Linked DNA regions of Homo sapiens: regions 2, 3, 4, 5, 6 and 7 are each reported to be linked to region 1. Evidence: microRNA targets listed by miRTarBase, many of them from high-throughput screens and not tested one by one. Region 1 holds a microRNA gene; each other region holds the end of a gene's coding sequence.
The links. Region 1 holds the annotated microRNA hsa-miR-4328 (CCAGUUUUCCCAGGAUU, at 1,270-1,286, opposite strand). A microRNA usually pairs through its seed, bases 2 to 8, with sites in the 3' UTR of a target mRNA and lowers its output. Matches are read on the target gene's strand: a 7mer-m8 pairs with bases 2 to 8, a 7mer-A1 pairs with bases 2 to 7 and ends in A, and an 8mer does both.

Region 2: the mRNA of NPTN is a reported target of hsa-miR-4328. Seed matches in the 3' UTR shown: 7mer-A1 at 997-1,003.
Region 3: the mRNA of GPAM is a reported target of hsa-miR-4328. Seed matches in the 3' UTR shown: 7mer-m8 at 2,346-2,352 and 7mer-m8 at 211-217.
Region 4: the mRNA of KLF10 is a reported target of hsa-miR-4328. Seed matches in the 3' UTR shown: 8mer at 1,619-1,626.
Region 5: miRTarBase lists PDZD8 as a target of hsa-miR-4328. Seed matches in the 3' UTR shown: 7mer-A1 at 662-668, 7mer-A1 at 1,636-1,642, 7mer-A1 at 2,644-2,650 and 7mer-A1 at 3,281-3,287.
Region 6: miRTarBase lists RAB22A as a target of hsa-miR-4328. Seed matches in the 3' UTR shown: 7mer-A1 at 2,070-2,076 and 7mer-A1 at 1,238-1,244.
Region 7: the mRNA of ASB8 is a reported target of hsa-miR-4328. Seed matches in the 3' UTR shown: 7mer-m8 at 2,100-2,106.

Annotation. Positions count from the first base shown.
Region 1 is chrX:78,899,935-78,903,260 of GRCh38, forward strand. MIR4328 (microRNA 4328) reads right to left here and starts at 1,315; the gene lies at 1,260-1,315.
Region 2 is chr15:73,559,485-73,562,484 of GRCh38, forward strand. It overlaps NPTN (neuroplastin), which reads right to left. Exons shown (of 9, transcript NM_012428.4): 8 at 2,412-2,486; 9 at 530-1,564. The coding sequence ends at 2,426. It overlaps REC114 (REC114 meiotic recombination protein), which reads left to right. Exons shown (of 6, transcript NM_001042367.2): 6 at 268-529. The coding sequence ends at 432. Among named protein-coding and RNA genes, the nearest start is that of NPTN-IT1, 8.6 kb to the right of the region's middle.
Region 3 is chr10:112,150,469-112,153,794 of GRCh38, forward strand. GPAM (glycerol-3-phosphate acyltransferase, mitochondrial) reads right to left here. Exons shown (of 22, transcript NM_001244949.2): 22 at 1-3,198. The coding sequence ends at 3,082. Among named protein-coding and RNA genes, the nearest start is that of GPAM, 32 kb to the right of the region's middle.
Region 4 is chr8:102,647,684-102,650,683 of GRCh38, forward strand. KLF10 (KLF transcription factor 10) reads right to left here. Exons shown (of 4, transcript NM_005655.4): 4 at 1,101-2,708. The coding sequence ends at 2,449. Among named protein-coding and RNA genes, the nearest start is that of KLF10, 6.5 kb to the right of the region's middle.
Region 5 is chr10:117,280,177-117,283,502 of GRCh38, reverse strand. PDZD8 (PDZ domain containing 8) reads left to right here. Exons shown (of 5, transcript NM_173791.5): 5 at 1-3,326. The coding sequence ends at 235. Among named protein-coding and RNA genes, the nearest start is that of SLC18A2-AS1, 40 kb to the right of the region's middle.
Region 6 is chr20:58,359,183-58,362,508 of GRCh38, reverse strand. RAB22A (RAB22A, member RAS oncogene family) reads right to left here. Exons shown (of 7, transcript NM_020673.3): 7 at 1-2,903. The coding sequence ends at 2,806. Among named protein-coding and RNA genes, the nearest start is that of VAPB, 28 kb to the left of the region's middle.
Region 7 is chr12:48,146,588-48,149,587 of GRCh38, forward strand. ASB8 (ankyrin repeat and SOCS box containing 8) reads right to left here. Exons shown (of 4, transcript NM_024095.5): 4 at 1,202-3,000. The coding sequence ends at 2,779. Among named protein-coding and RNA genes, the nearest start is that of ASB8, 9.4 kb to the right of the region's middle.

The DNA.
Region 1 (3,326 bases):
ATGGGAGGGAGAGAATGAGGGAGGGAAAAAGGGAGGGAGTGTGGAAGGAAGGAAAAAAAAGACAATGAACAAAATATATTTTAGAAAGGAGGAGAATGTGTGGCACATAGTGGGCATTGAATATATACATTTTTTATTATTATTATACTTTAAGTTTTAGGGTACATGTGCACAATGTGCAGGTTAGTTACATATGTATACATGTGCCATGCTGGTGCGCTGCACCCATTAACTCGTCATTTAGCATTAGGTATATCGCCTAATGCTATCCCTCCCCCCTCCCCCCACCCCACAACAGTCCCCAGAGTGTGATGTTCCCCTTTCTGTGTCCATGTGTTCTCATTGTTCAATTCCCACCTATGAGTGAGAATATGCGGTGTTTGGTTTTTTGTTCTTGTGATAGTTTACTGAGAATGATGATTTCCAATTTCATCCATGTCCCTACAAAGGACATGAACTCATCATGTTTTATGGCTGCACAGTATTCCATGGTGTATATGTGCCACATTTTCTTAATCCAGTCTATCATTGTTGGACGTTTGGGTTGAATCAATAGACAGTGTCAAAAGTGTTCAAAATTCAAAAACAAACAAATGAAAAAAACTGGGAGAGTGAGAGTAGATAAAATTTATTAGAGCCTTTGGAAAGATAAGTTGGAAAGAAGGCTGGAATGGTGTGGTAAGGGTAGAGTAGGGAAGATGGAAAAAGAAGCAGTTTGGAGGAAGTTAGGAAGGAAAGGAATGATGAGAGAGTAAAAATGATGCAAATTATGTGTTTTATATATTTGACTGGGAATAAAAGGTGATAAACTGATCAAGAATTTAGAATGTCAGGCAGAGATTTTTGTTACCCATTTGTTTGTTATAGACAAAGGGGTCCTGAGACTGAGGACATAAACCAAAAAAAAGGCCATGGAACAAAAGATGAAAGATACGAGAAAAGAAGGGGCAATGGCTTATAAGAATTTGTTACCTAAACAATTTATAGACATAGCAGTGCCTTAATCTAAAGCAATAAAACCCAATGGTGGAATTTCAGAAAGTATGATAACCAGTTTGAAAAAGTGGGATACATTTATACAGCCTCAGATTAGAAATCTACTTCTCCTCCTTAAACCAATTATATCAGAGGCAATTGTCCTGGTTTGATTTTCTTTTGAAAAGACTGCATTGACTTGAAATGTGTATGTGAGGGATGAACAGGGAGCAGGGAAATTTGCCTTTGGAAATTAAGTTCTTACTAAAATAGTTTTTATCTCTCGGAACAGTTAATCCTGGGAAAACTGGTTCTCAATGGTTCTCAGGACTCAACTGTTTTGGGGTTAATTCAGGAAATTCTAAATACCAGAGAGGCCAAATTATTGCTTCAACTTTTGGGAAGAGGTGCCATTCTTGAACTTGCTAGATGGTGAGCTAAAATGAGGAGGATGATCTGAAGTCTTTTTACATAGACTTCCAATGTCATGCTCTTATGGGCTTGCTCTGTCCAGTAAATGGCACAGATCTCCATCCTCAGCGACCTCAGAAGTGCCAATGAAGACTTATCAAAAGTATCACTTCCTGGGCCTGTGCATGTCTCAGATGCAGGTTCACTGTTGATCTTACCCATAGATATTAGTCAATGTCTGCATTAATGACCCTTCTGGGTCAACCTCAAGAGAGCCACAGAACTTGTTTTTCTTCTCTTCAATCCTGACCTGACCCCTCTATTAGCCTTACTTTAAGCCAGGAGAGCTCCTACTACAGAAAAAGGGGATGAGTCACTGAGGGCCAGGAACAAGACTAGATCTCTTTAGTGTCAAAGGAAGACATAACATGCCCTGTGAAGTCTATTGTTTTCTAAAAATCTTGTATCATCAGATAATATCTTGAAAGCTAACTTTCCTTTCATAGCAGAGAGAAACATTGAGAGTACCCAGGTATAAAATGCTTGAGGGGATGGAGACTCAATTTTTCATGACTTGAGTATTATGCATTACATGCCTGTATCAAAATATGTCTTGTATACCATAACTATATACAACTACTAAGTACCCACAAAAAATAAAAATAAAAATAAAATTGTAGCATGAATTGCTAAAAAAAAGAGGTTCTATAAGATCCTATACCAATTATATGCCGAAACTAACAGGGATATTGGGGTCCTCCATTTTATGTGGAGGTAAACTGATAGTAGATGGCTACTGTGATTTGCTTAAGGTCACAAAAGATCATAATCAGTGCAAATCATTTGACTAATACACTATCCAAGTAATACATTTCATTTTGCCTCTGGGGTTGCAGACAAGTTCCCTGCTGCAATGAAATCTGTGTGGGTATACATAAACTAATAAATACATTAATATATGATGTAATATAAAGTCACATAATAGTAAGTTTCATGAAGAAAGTAAAACAGGATAAGGAGATAGTTTGTGCAGAGTATGTATTTGCTTTCATTTTGGTTGTTCAGAAAAGTACTCTGAAGAGGTGACATTTTGAGTAGTGGACTGGATAATTTATCAGAGCCGTAGTCTTAAGGGAAAATGTTGCAGTCATAGACAAAGCAAGGGTAAAGGCCCCGGGATGGAAAGAGGATTAGTATTTGGTTTTTATTAACAATACTTAGTGACTTCTATAGGGTAGAGCACTCCAAATGTTTCAATTTAACTCAATGAAATTCAATTAACCAGTTAAGTAGAATTTAGTGCCGAATAAGTATTAAGAAATTATTTATTATTCAAAGGCCTAAAAACAGAACTACCATTCAACCCAACAATCCCATTACAGGGTATTTACCCAAAGGAATATAAATCATTCTATTATAAAGACATATACATGCATATGTTCATTATAGCACTATTCACAATAGCAAAGACATGGAATCAAGTAAATGCTCACCAATGATAGACTTGATAAAGAAAATATGGTACATATGCACCATGGAATACTATGCAGCCATAAAAAAGAATGAGATCATGTCTTTTGGAGGAACATGGATAGAGCTGCAGGCTGTTATCCTTAGCAAACTAATACAGGAACAGAAAGCCAAATACTACGTTCTCACTTATAAGTGGCAGCTAAAAGATGAGAACACATGGACACATAGAGGGAAACAACACACTCTGGGGCCTATCAGAGGGTGGAGGATGGGAGGAGGGAGAGGATCAGAAAAATTAGCTAATGGGTACTAGGCTTAATACCTGGGTGATGAAATAATCTGTACAACAAACCCCATAACACAAGTTTACATATATAACAAACCTGCAAACATACCCTTGAAATTAAAATAAAAGTTAAATTTTTAAGAAAGTAATTACTTGTATAAAACACTTGTGCTATGAATGT
Region 2 (3,000 bases), not on the chromosome of region 1:
GCAAACATTTCATCAGTACATTTGAAATTCTTTCCTTAGGGCAACAAGATTATCTCACATGCTATGTGTATTCAGAATACATATTAATATACAAAATTGTAAATGTAACAGTAAAACTATGTAAAGGAAGCCTGTAAAGCTAATTAACACTAATTTTTTTGGTGTGTATTTCGCTAATCTTTCCTTAAAGCACTATTTGCCTGTGTTCTATTAGCCAGGTATTGCTTTTACCTGTAATCTGTAACGACTTTTCTGGTATCCCTGCAGACTCTTCTGGCATCGGAGGAGCTGCCCCATGTCTATGAACAATCTGCATGGGGTGCAGAAGAGTTAGGCCCCTTCCTACGTTTGTGCCTTATGGATCAGAATTTCCCAGCATTTGTGGAAGAGGTAGAAAAGGAACTGAAAAAGCTGGCGGGTTTGAGAAATTAATGCTCTATATACATATATAACTAAGGAACTTCAAAGTATTGAAAAATGCTTCCTCCTAAAATTAAAGAAGATATTAGAATAAAGAGTATTATCCAAACACCTTTTATCAATGTTTTATTTTTAAAAACAGGTGAATCCACTTTTTTATACATCATTGCACTTCAATAATTACACAAAACACACAAGTACATGCATCTACAATTACGCACCGCATGAGAACCGTTAGGTTATAAAATCTATCATCAACCAGTAAATCAATGTGAAAAAATACAGTGTCAAACCAAAAAGTATAACTATAGTTGCATAGAATATTACCATGCTATAACATTTCAAGGTCATTGGAAACAAAAGAAAAATTATAAAAGTTTGCCTTGATTGAATGAATGTACAAGAATAAGGTTCAACACATCAGTGCAAAAGGATTTATGAATTTACATGACTTAACAGAAGAAAAGATAATCACTTAAAAAGCAATCATACGTATATACTGCAATTCATTATACCCATTCAGTGGACTGTTCCAGCTTATTAAAGTCACAGGTTAAGCCCTTAAAATTATAGATTTCAGTTTATATTACTCATCTTTATGTACCAGAACTGCACAATTTCCTCATCTGACAACATACAATAAGGAATGAATATCAGCAGCTTAAAAATGAAACAAGCATTTACTTTATTTTGGATTTCTCCCACCCCCAAAAATATAAATATATATATATATATATTTATATACTGTATATATCTGTAGGTTTTGCTGTACTTTACAAAAGTGTATCACTAGATGGCAGCAGTGCATTTTAGAGCTTTGCCAATTTAACAGCTGCATTAAGTAAAAAATGGCGCATGCATGATCTGATCCTCAGAGGACCTTTTCACTTCTATTTAAATATTTTAACAAAGGAAAAAAAAAAGCAACATTCACAGCACATCAAGCCCAAAATAGTTTACACCTTCTACACTGAAGCATTGTTTAAAATGTACCTGGCTAGATCACCCTTACAGGAGAGGCTAAATAAGGCATGCTTTAGACAGTCATTGTGGTGTTGCTCACTTGAAAGGGGAGAGAACCAAAGAGGTCCAAGCAGAAAATTTTAGCAGGTCATGTTGCCACCAGTTTCAGGAACCTAAAGATCTGTAAAGAAATATGTATTTGGAAATTATAAAGGGATTATGCACTGTCACTCACAACTACACCGTGTGCCACACAAAACTTTGGTTCAAACAGCACGCTCAGGGATGTGGTGTGAAATTCTGATCTCCATATGCCTAACAAGATGACATTCTGGCCCTGCTGCTACCTGGCCATTCTTGTCTTGCCCCCAGACGTGAGGTAAGACTAGTAGGCCTCTGGGAATAAGCCACCTAAGAAGGTGACAATTTTCACCTCTTTGTAAAGATATAATAGTAGTGAAAAGTGTTGATTTTAAAATATGTCTTCTGAAATGGCATTTATATAAACATGTGACACAATGCACCTGATGGCGGGGCACACTGGCTCATGCCTGTAATCCCAGCACTTCTGGGAGGCTGAGGCAGGCGGATCACTTGAGGTCAGGAGTTCAAGACCACCCTGGCCAACATGATGAAACCCCGTCTCTACTAAAAATACAAAATTTAGCTGGGCATGGTGGTGGGCAGCTGTAATCCCAGCTACTTAGGAGGCTGGGGCAGGAGAATTGCTTGAACCCGGGAGGCGGAGGTTGCAGTGAGCCGAGATCACACCACTGCACTCCAGCTTGGGCAATAGAGTGAGACTCCATCTTAAAAAATCCAAACAACAACAAAAAACAACGCAGCTGAAAAATGTTCCTTTCCAGTCCCTAAACTGGGCAGACAGAACTGGCTTCATCAGTATCAGCTGCTCTGAAATGAACTAAAATATCTTATAACACCAATTACTGAAGAATTTGTAACAAGGTCAATAGAGGCACATTCATTTGAATATAATTTTTAAGACTGCTACAGAAGGCCATACTTACATTGTAAGCAGTACTTAATTTGTGTTTCTCTGGCGCAAGTTTTTATCTTTGTGATTGTTGGTAGAGTTGGTTTTCCTTTGGAGGAAAAATTGCATTACATGAGTTAAACTCAGTCAATAACTTTTCAAAGTATAACACATGGAAATACAGGGACTCTTTCACTTACTGCCATCCCTGGTGTAGTGAGAAATTTTGTGGCACAATATGAGTGCATAAAAAAACATTCCTTAAGTAGCTACAGGTTAAGTATCCCTCATCTGAAATGCTTGGGATCAGAAATGTTTCAGATTTTGAATTTTTTTAGATTTTGGAATATCTGCATTATACTTACCAGTTCAGCATCCCTAATCTGAAAATCCAAAATTCAAAATGCTCCAATGAGCATTTCCTTTGAGCCTCATGTGAGCACACAAAAAAAACTTCAGATTTTGGAGCATTTCAGATTATGGATTTTGGTAGTAGGTAGACTCAACCTGTATATACCTCATTTTATCCTCCTTTTGACCCCCAAGGCAGACGAGTACTTTCCCTTCGAATCCGGAACTATAATTACGATACAGGTGAGAATATGTAAAACTTTTCTCCACTG
Region 3 (3,326 bases), not on the chromosome of region 1:
ACATCTATTCAACGCCACACTGGACGTTACAAAATGCATGCATATTCTGCCCCAGTGCTATCTGTTCATTACCGTTTTGTCTCCTTAAAGAACTATCTAACATAGTGTTTCCCAAAATGTTCTCCACAGGACATTAGTGAGAGGTTCATAAGTATCCCAAAGGAGAAAAAGGTCCTGGTGTCAAAATAGTTTGGGCAATGCTGGGTTAGACAGTTTTTCACTACCGGATGCCAAGCCCTTACTGCGCTAAAGTGCATTGTAAGTTTCCAGGTGCAAACTTGGTTTCCCAGCAACACCATTTCTATAAAACACTGATGAACATCTCACAGAGCACTCATATTACATGGAGTGCTATGGGAAATGCTTTTCCCCATCCAGGTTACTGGCAATTCCACAATTTGGGCTTACATTCATTGTAATCCCAGAAATATTTTCTCCATTTACCCTCATGACTTTGTGAAATTTAACAGATTCCAGAAGGAAGACTCGAAGCCATCTCAGTTAACAGTTCTACACATTTCCCACTAGTTTTTGCCTTTGTTTTTCATGCATTTTCAGAGTGCACAACTTCCCTCCTCTCTTCTGAATCACTTAGGACATTCTCATTTTCAAAAACAGACTGCAGTTTCATGTTGTTTAATATTGTTTTTTTTTTTTAACTTGACCACAGTCTTCCCCTGAAGAAGGGCATGCATTTCATGTTACAGAAATGCGATAGAGTAAACTGTAATAAATTATTTACAAGCACCTAGTTTGTTTAACCTTATGTGGAAGCCATCACTGTTGGAAAACAATGAGAATGTATCTTTTAGCAAAACGGTGCTATCTGGAAGCTTCATTGTGAAGATGCTTTCGTTTTTTTGTTTTTTGTTTTCAGTCATGAGGCACTGAAGAATGAGTTGTGCTGAAATTAACTCAAAGGTCAGCTTGTCTGGATGAGCATAACTTTGGTTGAGATTTTTCTCCCTTAAAAAAGATTTTCAAAGCACCAGTTAATTACAAAAAGCATGCATATTTATCCTCACAGTGAGTTAAGTGGTGAGAGAGCTAGCAAATCATACATTGCATTCCCCAAAGCATCTGAACGTACTTCTAGAAAACAAACCAACCAAAAGGGAAAATAATGCAAGAGAAGCCGTATTTTCTTTGCTTAGGTTGGCAAAGCAGCAGCTCTTTGCAGCAATGACAGGCAGGGCAGAGTGTCGACTGGGAAGCGAGTCCCAATCTTGAATAATGGTGAGCTTGAGTAATCCTTAATTTACAATTTAAAGGATGAAAAAAAGAGACTAGTGAAATGTTTGCTTCCCCAGATAAGGAACACCCAAGACTCCCTGGGTATCCTCCAAATGTAGCCAAGAAAAGTGTTCTTCTACCCTAGTCAGTAAAATGGAATGCTAAAACATGATATCTCATTCAACATCAGAGCTACTACAACTGACAATGACTTCATGGTATACATCAATTCCTATAAAGAAAAAATATATTTTAAATGCAGAACTTGAGAGGGATCACAACAGCATAGCATTATTGCTATGAGTTTCAAACATGGTATTTCATACAATGTGAAATATCAATCAGCATCCCTCCCTCTCCCAAAACACACATTACTCATGAGATACTATCAGTGTTTAAAATCCAAGCTTATGGAAGTACAAACTTAATTCTCAGTACTTTTATACTAAATTCAAAGAATCTATGTAACACTCATCTGGAAAAATTCTTAATTCCATAATATCTTGGAGATAAGCAACAGTAAACTGTTAGAAAACGTTTTAACATTACATGATATTTAAAAAATCACCATAATTACCATAATAAACCAATAATTATGCTCCCTGCTCACAAAAGGCACCTACCAATTATGAACAGACCATTTTTCATAATTATTTACCACTATGTGGCATAAGGGTTTAGGCATATAACCCATAAAAATTTGTTAAAAGTCATGGTTTTTCCTCAAAGCTAAAAATCCATAAATGCCTCTAACCATTACCAGTCAGTAGGGCCACCACATGCATATACTGGACAGGTTGTGCACGGCACAACTCGAGTGGGTACCAGTCACCTGGACTGGGGTGCAGTACACAATCTGTGTGCAGTACAGAAAGCCCTCATCAGCTGTGGCCAGAGAACTGTATTCTAACAGTCTGTCAGCTCAAGCTAATCAAGTTAGGAAAACTGCTATTTGGTTGGAGGATTTCCAAGAAACAGCTGTACCTGTGAGAGGCAGGTATTACCTGAGGGGTGGACGAGGTACAGACATAAAACAGGAAGGGTTCTAAATATATTTGCTGGTCATTTGAAACTCAATGGCACTTGTTTATATGAGCAAAAGCCTTCAACACCAGTTTTCTGGCCAAGTTTCCCTAGAATTTTGCCAGCCAAATTAACTTCCTGATGTTAACTATTTGATTACAATATCTCAGTTCCCGACCTAAACTAATATTGTCTGTTTTCACATAGCTCTTAAAAACATTTCTAAATCTGACAGCAAAGGACAGCACAGTGATACCTGGGTGTGATATATATCAGTCCACTCAATTTATAAAGCACTTTGGGATAAAAGGTGCTCCCATTAAAAATGTAGCTACTATTGACAGATAAAACTGAAAAAGAGTGAATGGATGACTCAATTATTTTTAAAGGAAGCATTAACCACTAACCAGATAATATACCAACAAATTACCCAGCAGCACTAAGTATACCATGTAAGATTCAGTTCCAGAACACAGCTACATTTCTGTGTCCATCACAGTAATTAGTCCTTAAAAGTTGTACTTAAAATGTCAATCTTTAATAAACTCAAAAATAATTTATTGAGATTTCATCTTGTAGTCTACGGATTATGAGTTGCGAATAGAGGCTGAGGTCCCCCCAAGTGTTATCTGCAGGCTGCTGTGTTGATGCAGAGCTGGGAAGATCACAGATCCATGGAGGGAGAAGGCACTTGTCTTCCAGGAGATCACTTCGGGACAGGGCAGGCCTGACCCTGCGATGGCACCTTCAACTCTTGAGCCAGAAGCTGGTACCTACAAGGAACTCATCTCATGACCTTCATTTGCCAGCAGTGCCACACGTTACCTACAGCACCACAAAACTCAGAATATATTCTAGAAGTTTTTGTCGGTTGCATTGAGGTAGAAAAGTGCTGCTCAGTTCTAAAACAGACACTCTCTTTTGTTTGGTCTCCTTGAAAACCTAAAGAAAAGGTTTAGATTAAATTAAAGGCAAAAAATAAAAAATAAAAAAAATTTCCATTACCAACCTGACCTGTGGTGTCCTAGACCTCAGAAGGCAGTAAAGGCACAAAAAACCATATCCTGGCA
Region 4 (3,000 bases), not on the chromosome of region 1:
GGCCAGAATGGCAAAGCCTCTCTCCAGCAGCTATGTCATACTCATGTGGTATTAAGTTTCCAAGAAAAGTAGCAACAGGTGTACAGATGTCCTGAGAAACCTGTCCTACAACTGCTGCCAAGTGAGTACACGGTCCCTTACCATGGTGTTTATTCAACAATGAGGCAGACTCTAGGTCACTGGTTAAGTTGGGCATTGTGGAAGATGTTCTCCTGACCACAAGGGGATTTCAGTGCAAGCTAAAATAGTAATCTACAAAATTATACTCTATACACCAAGTAGCATTTACAGCCCTTAGTTCCTTCCACTGATGAGTGACTAACAAGTGTTTCTCTTCAGAGGTGGATTACTTTTCATGAGGCTTAAGTACCAATATGTTTATTGCATTTAAGGTATCACTTAATTGTCTAACTTCTAGAGGTAAGCAATTTACTCGCTATTTAATAAGTCAGCCTTCTTTTCATTTGCCACGGCAGTTTCATTGCTTGTAATTATTCACTGTGGTGTTCCCTTTAACTTGAATACTACTTAACAAGATTTCGTTAATATCAAAATATTGTTAAATATCAAAATATTCAAGAATGCTTAAAAATTAGCACTTTGGGAGGCCAAGATGGGCGGATCACTTGAGGTCAGGAGTTTGAGACCAGCCTGACCAACACGGCGAAACCCCGTCTCTACTAATATAAAAATTAGCCGGGCATGGTGGTGCACACCTGTAATCCCAGCTACTCTGGAGGCTGAGGTAGGAGAATCACTTGAATCTGGGAGGTGGAGGTTGTAGTGAGCTGAGATCATGCCACTGCACTCCAGCCTGGGTGACAGAGTGAAACTGTGTCTTGAAAAATAAAAAACAATGTTTAAAAATTAAATGTGTTTTCTTAGAACTGGCTGGTTCACATATTACCTCACCAAATAGATATTTGGCCTCACTTTGTATACTCTCTAAATGGATTCATGTTAAAGACATACTCCTACAGTTCTAAATTTGAATGAGACCCTTAGAGAAATTCAGACACTAAGTCCTTGGATAATATAAGTGATCAATGTCAAGGTGAGAGTTGAGAATGGTTTTTAAGAAATGCAATGACCATTCCATATACCAAAGGGAATTCTTTATTGTAAACAAGATATAAAGTACAACAAAAGAAATATTGTGCAAATTGTAAGTCACAAGGATTTTTTTTAATTAAAACTTTTGTTTTCCAAGGGTCCAAGTTTTGATGTCAGAAATCTACACCCAATATACAAAAACAATGTTAAATGGGAAGATATAGTGACATTTTTCACTATATATTTTAAGCAATGTACTTTTGTTTTGCCACTGTGTATATCATCCACTATATAACAGAATAAAAGAGAAATACTGTTAACAAAAGTGAATGTTCTAATAATTTTTCTACCCAACTACCTCCACATCCCCAAAAAACGCCTATAAATTAACAGGACAACATCAACATTTGTCCACCTGTGAATAATGGTCACTAATTTTCTAATTCAATAAAGCACACATTATATCCTCATAACATAAAGGTACTTTACTGATGACATAAGCCATCTTTTTCAAGAAGTTATCTAAGATTCTTAATATCCCTTCTTTACAATATATATTTCATCTTCAGTTTTTTTTCTAAACAAAGTGCAGTGTATCTTAGAGTCTACAGAAAACACATTGGTATACAATTTTCAAATCTACACAAGAAACTGCAGGCAAACTAAAGTTCAAAGCATAATGAAATGCCTAGATACAGTCATTTGTTAAACTTTCAAAACAAAAATGCAAAAACAAATTGTAGCTATGCTTCAAAGCAATTAAATTAAGGAGGATTCCAATTCTTTGGGCCCTCTTAGCAATATACAGTCGTTCAATTCCAAATATTCACAATAGTGTAAAAATGATAGTTCTAGATATATTTAATCACTACATCCACGATGTTGACTGGAAAGACTAGGAATAATAAAGAAGATAACTCTAGAAAAAGATGACAATATTTGTAATAATACAAACTCATTTTACATCTCCATGTCTGTACCGTAATGTTTATTTCCTTCCAGCCTCCATATTCTTGAAACCAGTGCTTTAGAAGAATCACATTGAAAAGTTGGTCTCAAGTATAAACAGCAAAAGTAAAGTAACAAATATGCACACAGATTCAAAATCTGTGCTACCTGTGTTGACCTCATCTGAAACCTTCAAAAAATATTCAAAGGAATAAAAGCTTTCTCATCTCTCTTATGTGATAAGAAATGAAACCTGCCTTTCTGTGACCTGCCTGTGGCCGAAGCCCTTTTAGTCACCTAACCCAGGCGGGGCCTTCGTGCCAGGCTGTGGGGCTTCTGCTTTAAGCCCACGTTGTGGGGCCACAGACTTGCAGTGGAAGCATTTTTACATCACCACTGGCTCCCGCTGAGACCAAAGTTAGTTCTGACTCTTCACTTTCCGGTCTGTCACTGTGTGGGAGCAGGGGTTGGAGGTAGAGCAATGTCATTTAGCTTGCTCACTTCCATCTGCCAGTTTGGTAGCTTCTTGGCTGATAGATGGCGCCGGGCATGCTTGGTCAAATGGTCACTCCTCATGAACCGCCGGTCACACATGGGGCACGCAAATTTCTTCTCACCCGTGTGGGTTCGCCTGTGTCTGGACAGTTCATCAGAACGGGCAAACCTCCTTTCACAACCTTTCCAGCTACAGCTGAAAGGCTTTTCTCCTAAAACAAAGACATACAAATCATTATTATGCATAAGATTGCCGTAAATTATATGTTCAATTCTGTCTAAAAGTATATGAGAAGATACATTTTAAATAATAAAAGCTAATAAATCAAACTGTCAAATGAATATGAGATATGTATTGCTCCAATTTCAACTTGTCACTTGATCACATTTACAAAACTCTTCCCCACATGAAATAAGGCAGCCGGGTGGAGTAGTAGGCACCTGTAGTCCCAACTACTCAGAAGGCTGGGGCAGGAGGATAGCTTGAGCCCAGAAGTTTGAGAC
Region 5 (3,326 bases), not on the chromosome of region 1:
AGCTAAATCAGGTGAAAGGCTACAAGCTCTAACACTTCTTATGATTCACTACAGAGCAGGCATTGAAGATATAGAAACTTTAGAAAGTCTGTCTTTAGACCAGCACTCCAAAAAAATAAGCAAGTACACAGATGATACAGAAGAAGACCTTGATAATGAAATAAGCCAACTAATAGACTCTCAGCCATTCAGCAGCATATCAGATGACTTATTTGGCCCATCCGAGTCTGTGTAGCAGACAGGTCTATTTAAGCTTTCAAATGAACAGGGTAAAGTTGCATCTAAAGTACCACAGATACAACCATGTTTAAATCCTCGTATGCACTCTGGCCTGCTTCTCCAGTTACTTGCTTGTGTAAGAACAAAAATGAGAAAGGTTGTTTTCCAGTAAAAACATGACCAGCTTACTAATTGGTTGTTTTGGATTGCATTTATAGCTATGCTTTTTTGGGTTTATACTGGGAATTTATTTTTACTAAATTATTTAACTTTTCTAATTATGTAATTATGTAAGCTAGCTTTTCATGTTTATGTATGTATGGTGTCCCCTTGTGTTATTTTTCTTCCTCTTGGTTTTTGAATTAGTGTTAAATAGAATACTGTCTAGATTCTTAAAATATTTTCATTTCCATCATGGTTATAACAAATTTGCTGCATGCCCAAACTGACAACAGCAATCACTGAGGGAACAGGTTTTGAATCTTTCTTTTGTGTTATGAAGTTTATCGTCTCTACTTGCTTGAGATTTTTGTTATTTTGGGGGTTTGGGGGTGCTTTTTGTTTTGTTTTTGCCAAATGTAACATGAAAGCAGATGCTGCAGCTTTAGTCTGTTATGCTGATTTAGTAAAAAAAAATTTTTTACATATATTGCTTGCTTTCGATGCTTCTGTGAAATTTTTTTCTAAAGCTTTTGTGCAGCTGTATGGTAAAAATATGGTGATTAATTTGAAGAGCTTACATTGAAAGACAATGTAATAGGAAATAAATGTAGATTGCAGTTGGTCAAGAATTTTGTAGAGAGGATAACAAGACTTAATTACTGAAAAACAGTAACATAGCATTTTGAAATATAATCTTTTAAAATATTGATGCTTTCCTTTTAAATGGAAATTTAAATTTTATAATTAAAAGTTTAAACATTTATGATAATTTTCCTCATCAGTTCTCCCATAGGAAATAAAGCATGTGAAAGGGTATTTAAAGTTTTGGAGGACTCTTTTTAAAATGACTGTGTTGATAACTAGTTTGGGCTGGTTTTGTTTTAGAAAAAACATTTTCATGTAGGAGTATTCTGTGAAGGAAAGGAATCATGCAAAATATACTTTTTGCTTTGGCGTCTTACAGTTGTAAAGGAATGGTGATCATTCTGAATACTTCTGTAGTGAGTATTCATTAAGAAAAGAATGACAAAAATAGTATTCATACATAGGAATTGGGACCAGTTCTCTGAAAATGAAGATATACTCACACTGGGTCCATTTTACGGGTCCCAGTAACATTTGACTGAGGGAAAACAAGTAAGCTCGACTGTTGTTGGGGTACCTTAATGGTTTCGGTCTGTTATATACCTATAAAATAGACAAGTATATGTTTGTCCCTTTGTAGGTAACTGCTATGATGATTGCTATATAGTGAAACTGACATGAGTTTAAAACTAGATGGAGCAGCTTTTATTGCTGGCAGGAAAAAGCATGGTGTAATATTAAGGACTGGGGCCCAGGTCTAGACTCCAGGACTCCATAAAAGAGTTTAAGTTCAAGCCCTTCCATTAATGAACTGTGTAAGCATAGGCAGTTACAAAAGGACCCATCTCTAAAATGGGAATAATAATACTTTACCTCCCTCACAGTATTGTTGTGAGGGAAACAATAGCATAACTGCAAAAGTGCTTTGAACAGTAAAAAGATATACAAGTAAAAGGCATTATTTATATGAGTAAGAAAGACATTTTTGAGGGGAGAAAAGTTATTCCACTTTAAAAATCAATAGCCAAGTCTCATGCCTTTTGTTACTTTAGTAAGCGAAAATTTCAGGTACTAAATACCTTTCTTAGCCAAGTTTATAACAAAAACATCTCAGTATACTTCATTACTTATTTAAGCGTGATGTCTTTTTTTTTTTTTTTTTTTTTTTTTTTTTTTTTTTTTTTTGAGACAGAGTCTCGCTGTCTCCCAGGCTGGAGTGCAGTGGCATGATCTCGGCTCACTGCAAGCTCCGCCTCCCAGGTTCACGCCATTCTCCTGCCTCAGCCTCCGGAGTAGCTGGGAGTACAGGCGCGGCTAATTTTTTGTATTTTTAGTAGAGACGGGGTTTCACCATGTTAGCCAGGATGGTCTCGATCTCCTGACCTCGTGATCCACCTGCCTCGGCCTCCCAAAGTGCTGGGATTACAGGCGTGAGCCACCACGCCCGGCCACGTGATCTTATTTTAAAAGAACACTGCTATAGAAGAATTTACACACCAAATTCCCTGAAAGCTAAAGTATTGTTCCATAACTTACACTTGAGGCAATCTGCTCAGTGTGTAACCACTTTATAAAAAATAACTTACCATTGATAACCTGGAAGGTGGACTACTTGTAAGTAGCTGGTGTTTATTGATTAAACCATGGAAGTTTTCATGATACCCAAGCATGTTGCTGAAACTGATGCATTTGAAAGAGCTGTTGAAATAATGCAAAACTTTGGTTTTATAAGAATCTACTCATGTTTTAAAAGTATTTAACTCTGTAGACCACAATTATAGAAAGCTCAGTAATGCTGCTAATGACATTTGTAAACTATATCTGTAATGTAGTGCAATATTTTTATATTTCACTGGGAGAGGCAGTAGAGACATCATAGTTGTACTTTAGTGCAAGTGGGGGAACACTCCAAATAGCCTAGAGTATAGTAAGGTACAAAGCTTCAATGAAAAAAGCTGTATTATATTACATTACTGATGTAATCTTGCTGCCATGCTATGTATCAATAGCTAAAAAATAATAATAAAGACTACCACAGAAAACAAGAATATCTTCATTTAATGAAATCTTTAAAAAAGGTGATTGCTGCATCTCTATGGAATTATCTTCTGGTATAATTTGGCCATGCAGAAAAGCATAACAAAGTCCACTTTTCCTAAACAAAATTGCTGTTTTGCAGACTGCCCCAAAACATTTTTTTACTATTGTTTCCTTATGGATTATCAAGTTTATGGGTTTCCTTTGGCTATGTATTAGTAATTAGACTTTAAAATATATTTTCTACATTAGTATTAGCTGAGTGAATGGCTTAGACAAACTGAGCAACATTTTAGCATTATTAGCAATCATAATAGGCTATA
Region 6 (3,326 bases), not on the chromosome of region 1:
TAATTTTTCTCTTCTGTTCAGTCCTGAGAGTTTTAAAAAAATGGCCCTGTATCGTAAGAAAACCAAACATGTTTATAGATGGGAGTATGTCTCAATTCCTTTGAAATATAGCCTCTTCTCCATAAGAAATTATTATAAAGAAAATATGAAATGTGTATTAGATCATTGCTTAGTCAGCTTAATAATCCAAAATGTGTTCAAAATGAAACACTGCTTCTGACTTTAGTATTCATCTTTGCATTTTAGAAGCAAATAAAATAAGTGAAAATATTTTTTCCCTGCTTTCACTGAGTATGGATTATGGATCTGAGAGAGCAATTTTTTGTTGTTGTTGCTAAGCATTAGAAGGATATTACACGAGAAACAGTGCCGAGTCAAGTTCTTAGACAGACTGATGAAAATGAGGGAAGAGGCCCGAGAAATGCATAAGTACAAGCTTCATATCACTCATTCTGTTAATAAAACATGTGGCTATAATAAAACAGAATCACACCCTACATATGGGAGGGAGGGTGAGAAATCATGAAATCAGCAAAGGGCTGATGAGATGGACCCACATTGGGCTCGGTACAGTAAAACATCACAGTAAGATCAGACACATCCAGATGCCTCACCAGTTAAGATGAGCTCAGAAGACCTTGCCTTTCCCCATGCACCGAGACACCATGCAATCACCAACAGCTACTGGTGGGTGTGGTGGAAAAAATGTGAAGGTCATAGATTTGCACCATCTTTTGGTAAAATAAGACAGAAAGGGTCGCACATGCTTTGCCTCTTTGGTAATGAGTCAAGCAACCTCTGTTTTTATTTTGTTGTCATGGAGATAGAGGCCCAGCAGTGGGAATTCTAGGGACACACCAGGGTGGTGCCCGGATGCCTGGGATCCATCTGGATGTATACAGAAGAAAGTCAAACTACTTTAGGTGTAAAGCGCCTGGCTCTGGGAATCACATGGCTTCTCTAGGAGCTTGCTAATTTAGCACCGGGGAGGAAGCAAAATCCTAGGGGCATGGAGCATCCACATGTCTTTTAAACAAAACGAAGTTAGAATTTTTACTAATGACATTCTTTTTATATGATTTCAGAAGATAAAAAAAATTCCAAATGCTTAAGATATACAACAGGGAAAAGGGAATTGTTTTTTATTTAATCTGAATTATAATTTTCCCATTAAAATCTATCCATATTAAGTGGGGGGCACAAAATAATACCAATTATTTTTTAAAGTTTCAGCTGTTCAGTTTCAGGATAGCTCTGAAAATACAATTTAGTTTGAAATTCAAGCTGTTTCATTTCCTATTAAATCTTGTAAATTTCCTTCCCCTACAATACTCAGGTTGGAAGGGTGCCAAATTAGACCAGGAACAAATTTTCACCAACTTCACTTCAATGCTTTATTTTTAGATGATATTAAAAACCTCATTAGGCTCCCTGAGGGAAAAGAGTGTTAACCACTAACAGAGGCAGGGGAAAAATAAAGGAAACAGAAAGATAAGCTAAATTGTTAACAAGGAAAGCTCCTCAGTTGGTCTGAGGATGCTGTACAAGCTAAAAGAAACTTATTACCAAGACCAGGTAAATGACTTGAGGTTGGAGCTTAATCTTTTACCCTCAGGCTAGTAAGGACTAGTCAGGTTTGTCAAAGTGGCATATGTCTTTATTATGATTTCCAGATGGGATCTGGTGGGAGGCGGGTGGGTAGAAGGGAAGGCAGAGAAACCTTTAAAGATTGTAAGCTAAGTGCTCTATACCTTTATACAATACCAATGTGCTTGAGTCTCCCGTTAAGAGGCTGAAAACTGGGCAGGCATACGCAAGACTGGGTGCGAGATTCAATGGAATGTCAAATGAAACTTAGAATTTATTAATGTATTTACATAATTTATAATCTTTAAGCAATGGCCCCATAAATATAGACTACAACTTTACATATGCTAAGCAATAGATACTTGCTTTTCCCCACCAAAATACTTGGGTTAAAAAAAAATTGACAGCATTTATACCACCTTCTTCACTTCCACTCTTCTTCCTTTTTAAACCATTGCTAGTCATTTTAGAACATATGAAATTCAGTTTATTCCGGGCAGCTTCTCTACCATCACCATCTTGATCATGAGAGCTTATTTAAAAAGGTGCCAATAACGTGTTTGGTGGCACACACATGACAAGGTCAGAAGCAAACCCAGGATGAGCTAGGCATCTGCTGCTATCATTGTTAATTTACTGTACGTATCCTAGGCTAACATGTTCAATGAAAAGTGCTTTAGAGATGGCAGAGATGAAATCATTTCCATCAGTCCTATAAATAACCCATTTTAGCTTCAGACAATAATTGTCCTCCCTACACTTAAACTATCCTACTATATGTTAAATGATACAACTCCCTCTAACAGTGGTAACAGAAACCAAGGAAATTATAATCTCCACAAGGTCTGTTTCTTTTCCCTTAAGAACCACAAAAGTGCTAATTTTCCCTTTACAAATGTTACATAAAATCTTGATTACAAAACTACTCAACAACTTAATCCTACCATCCATACAATTATATGTTCCTTTTCAGCAAGGTCAAAAGCCAACGATGTAGTCCCTTTGTACACTAGAGATTCTTTACATAATAGAAGTTCACAGACTGAAATATCATTGCTGCAGTCTTTGGAGAACAGAACTGGTCCATTTCTGTGAATCCTTTTTGCACGGAGAAGACTCAAGACTGGCTAGGTGAAAACTGGTGGCAGGGACCCCAGCCCTCCTGTTAACTTTCAGGACCACCTACTTCATCATCAAGTCTGAGAGGCTGAGGTTCGGTCAGCAGCAGCTCCGCTTTGGCTCTGAAGGCTGTCTTCGGAGTTTGAAGCCCTTACCGCCAGATGGCAGGTTGGCGTCAGTGGATGGAATTCTTCGACCTAAACCAAGATGAGAAAAGGGAAGGGAGTGAGCTTTAACTTTCTCAGACACAACAATTTTGCAGATGCAATTTGACAGGTTTCACTGAAGTAAAAAAAAAAAAAAAAAAGTTTAATAAACTTTTTATACTCGAATAATTTTAGATTTATAGAAAAGCTGCAAAGATGATAGAGCTCCTGTGTACCTCCCACCCAGTTTCCCCCAGTGCTGACATATTACCATGGGACATTTGTCAAAATGAAGAGTTCAACATTGCCACATCACTATTAACTCCAGACTTTTTTCAGATAGCATCAGTTTTTCTACATGTCCTGCTTCTGCCCCAGGATCCAAACAAGGATATCACACAGCACTTAGTAAACGTTTTTTAATTAAAAAAAGCCACACATCAAAAACATTTTGTTTTGAGTAGGTAATACATA
Region 7 (3,000 bases), not on the chromosome of region 1:
TCCTTATCATGCCATATCAAATCCCCAGAGCCATAAGGCCTATGAAAACAAAGTGAAAGGGAAGGTTCAGGCATTCATTCAGAACATTTTAAATGCTAATTGCCATTGATTTATAGGTTCTCTGTCTCTTTCCTGTCTTTAATCTTAGAGCTGTTTCCTCAAGAAAATGAAGAGGGAAGGATGGCTCAGGGAAAGTTAATCAGAGGGAAAATGTCACTCTGTAAAGAGTAAAAAATTTAGGATGATGATACGATCTGGGAAAAAAAGGCATAGTGAAGACCACTTAAAAACAAACAAAAAAAACCTATGAAGGTGCATGCTATTTCCCCAGAGCTAAAAAGATAAGTGAAATTGTGTTTGAACTCTTAAGTGGAGGTGAAGCAGAATTTATTAGCCACCAACCACATAAGTGATTATGAAGTAACTGAGAAACAGGTAACATTTTTTCCCACATGGACAAAACTTTCTCTTTCTAGAATATTAAGTATCTATGATGAGAAATGAAGTAGCATCTCAAGCAGTTTATAAATCTACCAGAATATTAGAATCACCTGGGACCTTTGAACGTACTCATGCCCAGGTCTACTTTATTCATTTATTTTTTTGTAGAGATGGGGACTTCAACTCCTGGTCTCAAATGATCCTCCCACCTCGGCCTCCTAAAGTGTGAGGATTACAGGCGTGAGCCACTGTGGCCAGCCCTACTAGGTCTGCTTTGGACCAATTAAATCAATCTCTGGGGGTGGAGCCTGGGCTTTAGTATTTTTAAAAATTTTCCTAGGTGGTTCTAATTAATAACTAGGATTGAGAACCACTGACTAACACAGTGGAATCTCATTCCTGGCTATATTTGAAGCACTGAAGCCCCCAGTCCTACCCCAGAAAATTCCAAAGAATTGGTATGAGGTGAAATCTTGGCACCAGTGTTTTTAAAAAGCTTCCTTAGTGATTTTATGTGCAGCTGGAGTTGAGAACATAAAAGCAGTAATTCCAAATTTGGGGTGGGAGAAGGTATAAAGGAAGGGGAAGCTCTTCAGATACTCTGCCCAAGCCCTCCTGTTCACTCCAGCAATGCCCAGAATCACTGCTGCTAATGGGAGAAAGGTTGGGATGGAAAGTTACATAGAACAGCCAGGCAGTAAACGAAGAACTTTTTCTAAGGGGGGTTGGAGAAAAGTAGGAAAAGTAGAAATTGCCAAACTTGCTTTTAGAACTATTTATTCTTTTTTTTTAAGTGATGTTTTTTAAACACCAGCATCAATAGGACAGAAGAAGACATCTGTTTTCCAATTAGCTGTGTCAGTAGATTCCATTCATTGTTTGTAGTTCCCAATCAGCTTTAAAAAAAAAAGTTTTTCAAATTTGCATACAAGTCATCTAAAATCAATAACAACTTGATCTAATTTAGAAAAATGAAAGAGTATCGTTCACTAAAGCAGATCTCTTTTGGGTAGATGGACCATCACAAAAGGAGCTCTTACATGCTTTTCCCACTCCCATCCCAAGTCCACCCTCCCACCAATTGTATTGTATAAATCAATAAAAAGCAAAGGTTCCAGAACAACTGAAAGAAAAATAATTCCAAACTAAGCAGAGTGAACTTTCCATTGGGAATGAAGACCCATGGGAAAAGGCAGCCCAGCCCATAACTCCTCCCTGCTGGAACACACACCGTAGGTGTAGGAACTGCCTGGGAATCCCATTAGAACACACTGTTTCTCAGGAAGAGAAAAAGCTGCATTACAAGAAAAGTTCTCAGGACTTTAGGAGTTCTTAGGACTGTTATTTCAGAGCTATTTATTACTGTTATTACAGAGCTCTTGTTATTTCAGAGCTACTGTAGCCCTTGGGCACAACCAACAGAAAGAGGCAAAGACTGCTGTTTCCTTTGATGAGGGGAAAGAGGTCCAGTCCCTTCCAAATGCCCCAGGACATGGCACAGTAGGGATGTCATCCAGCCCAGTTCTGGATCTGCACCATTTGAGGTTATAGTATCTTCATCTTTGGGACACAATTGCTGTTAGCTGAAATTGTGATTTTCTTAAGTTTTTTCACAGATCAATTAAAATGGTTTTTTTTTTTTTTTTTTTTTTTTGAGACAGTTTTGCTCTTGTTGTCCAGGCTGGAGTGCAATGGCGCGATCTTGGCTCACTGCAACCTCTGCCTCACAGGTTCAAGCGATTCTTCTGTCTCAGCCTCCTGAGTAGCTGGGATTACAGGCGCATGCCACCATGCCCAGCTAATTTTTGTATTTTTAGTAGAGACGGGGTTTCATCATATTGGTCAGGCTGGGCTCGAACTCCTGACCTCAGGTGATCCACCTGCCTCAGCCTCCCAAAGTCCTGGGATTACAGACGTGAGCCACCATGGCTGGCCTAAAATGCTTTCTAGAAGGGATTCTTCTGGACCGTTAACCACGTCCCCAAAGGAAAACCACACACACATTATTTAAGTACTTTCCATCTTCCTAGAGAAATTTAGTTACACTGTTGACTCCTTCCCTAAAGGGGAGGATTGAGGGAGACCTCTTCTTTTGCAAAATGCAATATAAAAAGCCAGGTAAGCAATAAACAGAAAACAAAAGTGAGGGATTTTTTTTGTTGGGTTGTTTGGTTTGGGAAGGGGAGGTGCTATGGAGGTTATTGTTGTGACATGTTGCTTCGAAATCTATAAACCACACAACAGGAACAACTGTTTTTCTGTTTTCTGTGACAAGGAGTACTGCAGGGACAACCTCACCCAGAGCTGCCTGCACGATGGTGCAAACATCTTCTCCGGCTATTCTAAAAGTAACAGGTATTCCTTCAAAGAAGCTGGCAGTGGAAGGCCCTTCACTGCATCGGGGAGATACTGGAGTCCCAGGCTACGGCGCACGGCATAGCGAGCGAGTGTTTTTAGAGTTCCTGGAGCTGAGCACAGAACAGTCAGTTTTTCACATAGCTGCGGGTCTCTGGCCACCTCTCGTGGCATGGTGCCATTTTTCCTCAATTCAAAGTGTCC